Homo sapiens: one gene and its partner. The protein of the gene in region 1 purifies or fractionates together with the protein of each later gene. This does not show direct contact. Each region holds a gene or a part of one and is shown in the gene's direction. Other genes may lie near its edges.

What was found.
Region 2: the proteins of COL4A6 (region 1) and SUMF1 fractionate together in Homo sapiens (co-fractionation; one large-scale study listed by BioGRID). This does not show direct contact.

Annotation. Positions count from the first base shown.
Region 1 is NC_000023.11:108,169,391-108,172,977, reverse strand, and holds part of COL4A6 (collagen alpha-6(IV) chain isoform B precursor), read left to right. Parts: intron 1-445; coding exon 446-509; intron 510-1,516; coding exon 1,517-1,591; intron 1,592-2,060; coding exon 2,061-2,168; intron 2,169-2,261; coding exon 2,262-2,369; intron 2,370-2,961; coding exon 2,962-3,033; intron 3,034-3,357; coding exon 3,358-3,483; intron 3,484-3,587. UniProt on the Homo sapiens protein: Type IV collagen is the major structural component of glomerular basement membranes (GBM), forming a 'chicken-wire' meshwork together with laminins, proteoglycans and entactin/nidogen.
Region 2 is NC_000003.12:4,450,238-4,453,824, reverse strand, and holds part of SUMF1 (formylglycine-generating enzyme isoform 1 precursor), read left to right. Parts: intron 1-775; coding exon 776-949; intron 950-3,587.

The DNA of each region.
Region 1 (3,587 bases):
CTTGTGTTCCTTGCGGAACCTGTGGCAGAGGGCTAACCCTGCAGGGTGAAGTGAAACTTCTTCCTATGCATAATGGCTCCAGAGCTTTGGCAAGGACAGTGGTAGCCAACTGTGTGTTGAGTCCATTGAGTGCCTGGCCTGTCATCTTCTGCATTTTCTGAGAGACTCGCTAGAATGGCCACACTGTGACTTTCTAAGATTCCCATTTTGATAAGCAGTGGAATCGAATCCTTCCCCTACAAACCCTAAGTATGTGCTCTGCCCTTTGTTCATCACCTTCCCGTTTGCAGGACATAACATCCCCACTTCCAGCCCACAGTCCACCCTTGCCACAGAATACATGATGGACATCTCTCAGGCAGTGGCTCAGTGAGGGGTGAGGAAGTAAGAGGGTGGGCAGTCCTGAGCTCTGGGCAGAAATGATGATTCCCATATTGCTTCGAAGGGTTCACAAGGTATCAGAGGGTCGCCTGGACTCCCAGGAGCATCTGGTCTCCCAGGCCTGAAAGGTAAGGAGCATTTTTTTTTTCTTTTAATGTTTTCTTCTAGAGCAAGGTAGATTTCTAGCAGGCCCAAGGGTCTCTCTCTTTTTTTTTTTTTTTTTTTTTTTTTCTTTTTTAGGCAGAGTCTCGCTCTGTCACCTAGTGTCACCTAGGCTGGAGTGCAGTGGCGCAATCTCAGCTCACTGCAACCTCTGCCTCCCGGGTTCAAGCGATTCTCCTGCCTCAGCTTCCTAAGTAGCTGGGATTACAGGCATTAACCACCACACCCGGCTAATTTTTGTATTTTTGGTAGAGACGGATTTCACCATGTTGGTCTGGCTGGTCTCAAACTTCTGACCTCGTGGTCTGCCCACCTCAGCCTCCCAAAGTGCTGGGATTACAGGCGTGAGCCACTGCACCTGGCCATCCCAAGGGTCTCTTGCGAGGGTAGCGGAGAGTCTGTGTTTAGGGGAAAGTCAATTAATTTACATTTTCCCTTTGGCCAAACCCCTTTTGCAGTCCTTGTTCCTCACAGACAATGCAACAAACAATGGTACTTACCAAGATCTCTCTCTGTGGCTTTCATGGATCCAAGGAAAAGGCTGTCCTTTGGCTTTGTGGTTTTGCCCATCTGCTTTCCAGACTTAGCAGCGAGGAGAACCTCGGCTCCAGTCTCTTCCCCTGATAAACCCAGCCCACTAGGCAGGAAAATTTCCCATTCTTGCTGGCATCACTGTTCCATTCTGGTGATGTTTGAGGGCCCTGCCTACCATCTTCTCTGCCCATACTGAGCCTAGTGATGTGTTTCCCAATGGAGATATGCTGTATGTAGCAGCATTTCATGCCAGTAGTCTGGTAGCAGCATCCCAGCTCCTGGATGGTGGTTCATCACTTTTTACCCAATAGATAATTTTGTCAAGGAGCTCCTCTGGCTACACTGAATCTGAAAAAAAAAATGTGTTCAAAAGATCTCAGTGGTGCAAAATGAGCTATAGCTTCTCCTGGCCATTTAAACAATGTATTGGAATCCTCAGGAGACAACGGCCAGACAGTTGAAATTTCCGGTAGCCCAGGACCCAAGGGACAGCCTGGCGAATCTGGTTTTAAAGGTAAGGTTGCTATATTTTTGTCTTGTTTGCCTCACAGACTCCACAAAACTGAGGATTAGAAGGAATTTTGGAGGTCAACCCCAAGTTCTGCAACTTCTATCCAGTGCAGAAAATTTCCTATCTATCAATTCCCCAAGCAAATCAGCCTACTCTTCCTTCAAGACTCATAGACTGGCAAAGACCTTTGGGATAATGGCCTACATCCCCTTAGTTTAGAAGTTGTTATCTAAACTGTCCTTCTTGAACATTTCCACTTATTGCTCCCACTTCTGAAGGGATACTCATAACAAATTTACTTGCTTCTCAATTGTAGGGCACCTTTCTAATGTGAAAACAGCCACCACTATCTTTTTTAGAGTTTCTTCATTGGGTCTAGCTCCTTCAGCAATTCAGAATCTACTCTTTCCCATAGAGGAATACACTGCTAGAAATATGGCCTAATCACTCAGCATTTTTCTTGGTTTTATAGGCACAAAAGGAAGAGATGGACTAATAGGCAATATAGGCTTCCCTGGAAACAAAGGTGAAGATGGAAAAGTTGGTGTTTCTGGAGATGTTGGCCTTCCTGGAGCTCCAGGTACCATGCCACATGATAACCTTATTCTGAAAGAGTTTGGATTAGCTTCAAGCCATGCCCCATTCTGAACCTCTGCCTTGGTTTCACATTTAGGATTTCCAGGAGTTGCCGGCATGAGAGGAGAACCAGGACTTCCAGGTTCTTCTGGTCACCAAGGGGCAATTGGGCCTCTAGGATCCCCCGGATTAATAGGACCCAAAGGTATGTGTATTTGGGAGCAGGCAGTGGGGAAAAGTCTTTCCCTCGATGAAGGACACCAACTACTTTATCTTAGAAGATACTAGCTAGGGTTAAGCCATGCCTACAGGAGTCATTGGACATGAGGAATCATGGGAAAGGAAGATGAAGAGTAATGAAGGCAGGCAAGCATGAGTGTGAAGAGAAGAATATGGGATCCATGAAGAGAAGAGCTAGCAAGGAAGGCAATTGCCCTGGCATGTGTAGCCTTTCCCTGACTTAGAGATTGGGCAGTGAGTTTCTGGAACCAGTCTCTGGGAGCTGACAACTCAAGGTCTTGACATTGCTACTCTGAGTTCTTCTTCAAGATACCTAATGAGCTGCCATCTTACTCCTAAAGCTGTATTGGTCTCTGATAAGAGTCATGAGAACCTGTGGTGTAGGATATAGGTTGGGAGTGTTTTCTTCTCCCTTAGGGCATTAAGTAAATGCCTCAAAAAAGACCAGGACTTTAAAATAAGGACCTCGCAATGCCTTTGGGGGCAGGTAGCTACCTCTTGCTGATGCTTCATGATTCAGAGTTGCTGGAGCCATTTTTGACATTCTCTCCCCTCAGGCTTCCCTGGATTTCCTGGTTTACATGGACTGAATGGGCTTCCGGGCACCAAGGGTACCCATGGCACTCCAGGTTAGGAAGACCCTCAGGGTGAAGAGGAGGGCATCAGCTCTTCCAGAAGCCTGGCAAGGGCTGGCCATGAATTCTCGACTGTGGTGTATCCCATATCCTTGGACTCATAGCTCTCCTTATTAACCTCCAATTTGAGGTCCCTTGATATGGAGAAGAAAGAGGATGGGTTTTTTTCTTCTACTCAGATTAACTTTCTTTCTTGTTACTTCAGTACTCTGCCTCTGGTGTCTGTCAGTCAGGCTTCTCAGGCCACAGGCGAGTGAGTTAGGCAGGAAGGCCTCACCTCCACTGAGGTCTGCCCCCTACCCCTGCATCTCCTCCTAGGACCTAGTATCACCGGTGTGCCTGGGCCTGCTGGTCTCCCTGGACCCAAAGGAGAAAAAGGATATCCAGGAATTGGCATCGGAGCTCCAGGGAAGCCGGGCCTGAGAGGGCAAAAAGGTGATCGAGGTGAGTCCAAGTCAGGCCTTGTAGAGGCTGAGTGAGGCCTTGCTGGGAGAGTCAGGTTTAGGGTACAGCAGGGCCATGTGGCTCACAGGGTTGGGCTGTGAGTG
Region 2 (3,587 bases), on another chromosome or scaffold:
CAGTGGCTCACACCTGTAATCCTAGCACTTTGGGAGGCCGAGGCGGGTGGATCACCTGAGGTCAGGAGTTCAAGACCAGCCTGGCCAACTTGGTGAAAACCTGTCTCTGCTAAAAATACAAAAATTAGCCGGGCATGGTGGTGGGCGCCTGTAATCCCAGCTACTCAGGAGGCTGAGGCAGGAGAATCACTTGGACCCGGGAGGTGGAGGTTGCAGTGAGCCGTGATTGTGCCACTGTACTCCAGCCTGGGGCGACAGAGCAAGACTCCGTCTCAAAAAAAAAAAAAAAAATTAGTTGGGCATGGTGGCACATGTCTGTACTCCAGCTGTTTGAGAGACTGAGTTGGGGGAATCGCTTGAGTCTGGGAAGTCAATGCTGTAGTGAGCCCTGATCATGCCACTGCACCCCAGCCTGGGCAAAAGAGTGAGAACCTGTCTCAAAAAAAAAAGAAAAGTGGGATATTCTCGCTACCTCTGCATTCTAGCCGTTAGCGGCTTGGTGACTGTTATTCCAGACCTGTTTCCAGTGCAGGTACAGATTTGTATCAAGTAGTGGTTTGATTAAGGAGATTACCTTCTTAAAGAATTTTCACTTCTTTTTGAGACTCGTGATTCACCTTCTTTGGGGTATAGAGAGATTTTTCCGAATTTTACAGTTATTACTGTGGTGAAGATTTACAAACTTGCGTGCTTCCTGGGTGCTAGGAACTTTACCCCTACACAGGTACACCTTGGCTGTGATGCATGACTTCCTGTGTTTCACCTTTCATTGTAGATGGTCCCCATCCCTGCTGGAGTATTTACAATGGGCACAGATGATCCTCAGATAAAGCAGGATGGGGAAGCACCTGCGAGGAGAGTTACTATTGATGCCTTTTACATGGATGCCTATGAAGTCAGTAATACTGAATTTGAGAAGTTTGTGAACTCAACTGGCTATTTGACAGAGGTAATGGGATTGGGGAAAGGAGGGAGAACTTGTTCTTTTCCAGAACTTTTAAGAATGCTTTAATAGCAGCTAAGATTGACTGACCATTTTTACTGCATTCTGTGGCAGAACTGTGTGAAGCATTTTATTGTATATATTTCATCTTAATTTCTCACAGCAACCCCATGAGGCAGGTTATTTTTCAGGTGGCATACTGAGGATAAGAAAAGTTATTTGCCCCACATCACACAGCTAGTTGGTGGTAGAGCTGGGATTCCAGCCTGGCCAGTTTGACCTCAGAACATGTGCTATAACTATTATGCTATATTGTGTTAATGCTTAATGTGTCAGAGAATACCACTGTCCACTAAGGCTTTTTGAGATAACAGATGGCATGTAAAGTAAGACCACTTTTCTTCTCAGTAAGTTGCAGTTTGTTTTTTTCCAGAAGCATTTCATATTTTTTAAGTGATAAATGCAGAAGTGCAGCTTTTCATTTTCGTGTCTTTATTCCAACACCTTGACAACTCACACATGCTGTGCTATAGCAGTTCCAGACATCATCTGGTGGTCACTGAATCACAAAGCAAGGTTCTGATAGTGGATGCTTTCCTAAATGGGAATAGGAAGAGGAAAGCTTTCTAGTCTATGAATGTTTATGTCAGTTTCTGAAATATACTTATTTTATATGCTTTCCAGTTTTCTCTCACGAAAAACCTTTACTCTTGTCTTCAGTTCGTGGGGTCCCTATTCTTTTTTTTTTTTAAGACCCCAAATGTCTTTTTGTAAATTATTATTAAATGAATAATTTGAGAGTGAATGTTTAAAGTAAAACAACTTTCAGATTTGGTTTTGCATTGTCACATTTCTTTGGAATTTTCTCAAATATATAAAGTGGTTAGAAACCTTTTTTGGGCCAGGCGCGGTGGCTCACGCCTGTAATCTCAGCACGTTGGGAGGCTGAGGTGGGTGGATCACGAGGTCAGGCGATCGAGACCATCCTGGCTAACACGGTGAAACCCCGTCTCTACTAAAAGTACAAAAAATTAGCCGGGCATGGTGGCGGGCACCCGTAGTCCCAGCTACTTGGGAGGCTGAGGCAGGAGAATAGCATGAACCCGGGAGGCGGAGCTTGCAGTGAGCCGAGATCCGGCCACTGCCCTCCAGGAAGAAGAGCAAGACTCTGTCTCAAAAACAAAAACAAAAAAACCGTTTTTGTACACATTCGTAATAAGCAGAAGTCCTTTTCCTTTTGGTTTCACAGAGATACTCTCAGCTCAGGTTCCTCAATAGTTTACTTAAGTTAGAAGACTTCTACAGAACCAGGGTTCTCCATGAAGATTAGATAGAATAAGCAGAATTTGGGGCATCTAAAAACATGGATAGGGAAAAGTTATAAGTTGGTACAAAAGTAATTACGGTTTTTGTCATTACTTTTAATGGCAAAGACCGCGATTACTTTTGCAGCAACCTAATATATCTGGTTATTTACTACCCTCGAGCCACAATGTAGTATTTTCTTCAATTATGATGCAAACAGCAAACCACAGCAGTAGTAGCAGTACCTCTAACTTTGTTACCAGTAGAAATCACAGACATTTTTAATCATATTTTTGTTGTTGCAGAGATCTTGAAATATTGTTTGCATTCATCCCCACTTTGAAATATGATAATTATGAGACCTGCCACTAGATCTTATTTAATATATTAATGAAGAGCATATTTAATACTATAGCACTGGTTTGTTTATTAATATTTTGATATAATGACTTTTCTTCATAATACTATTTATTTTATTTTATTTTTTTATTGATTTTATTTTATGCATTTAAACATTTTATTCTGAGAAGGGGGTTCTTAAGCTTCACCATACTGCCAAGGAGCTCAAAAAGGACCAAGAACTGCCTTGGACAAAATGCTCTGTTTTTTTAATGGCACTCTTTTCCCATCTCTCCAGCTTTACTTTATATCATGCTCCTCTTGTATACTATGTTCTAGCCCTGCTGGTTTTGTTTCTATTCCTTGAAAACTCAACATTCTTTCCCACCTCAAGAACTTGGCCCGTATTTTCTCTCTGCTTGGAATTCGCAGTCCTCTTGCTTATCCCCCTTCTGCATGGTTGGCTCCTTCTCATTCTTGAGTCATCTCAGCTTAAATGTCACTTTCTCAAGAAAGTTTTTCATGACACTCTACCTTACAAGGTGTAGTAAAGTTATAATTATTGTCTTCCATTCGTTGTTTGGCTTGATTTTTTTCTGTGCTCCCACACTTAAGCACAATAAGGATAGGGGCCATGGCTATCTGATATTGACCTTATATCCCCTAATTTAGCCCCAAACTGAGCACATGGTAGGTGTTTGATACATGTTTGTTGAATAACTAAATGGCTTAGGTAGTTAGTCATGGCAGTGTCACAAGGGAATGCAGGAAGAAGATTAGGGGTGAAGAAAAGATGGCAGCCTCCACTCCGGAAAAGGAGTTGGAGATGCTTGTAAGATCTGCAATATAAGGATCCAGTACTCAGTTAATTTCATCTAGTAAGAACAGGACAGCACTAGAGGTAGAGATTTGAGAGTCATTTGGAGTACTGGCTATAGTTAATTTGATGAGATTGAAAGTTGTCCATCAACAAGAATCGATCAGTGTATCTCAAAGTGCA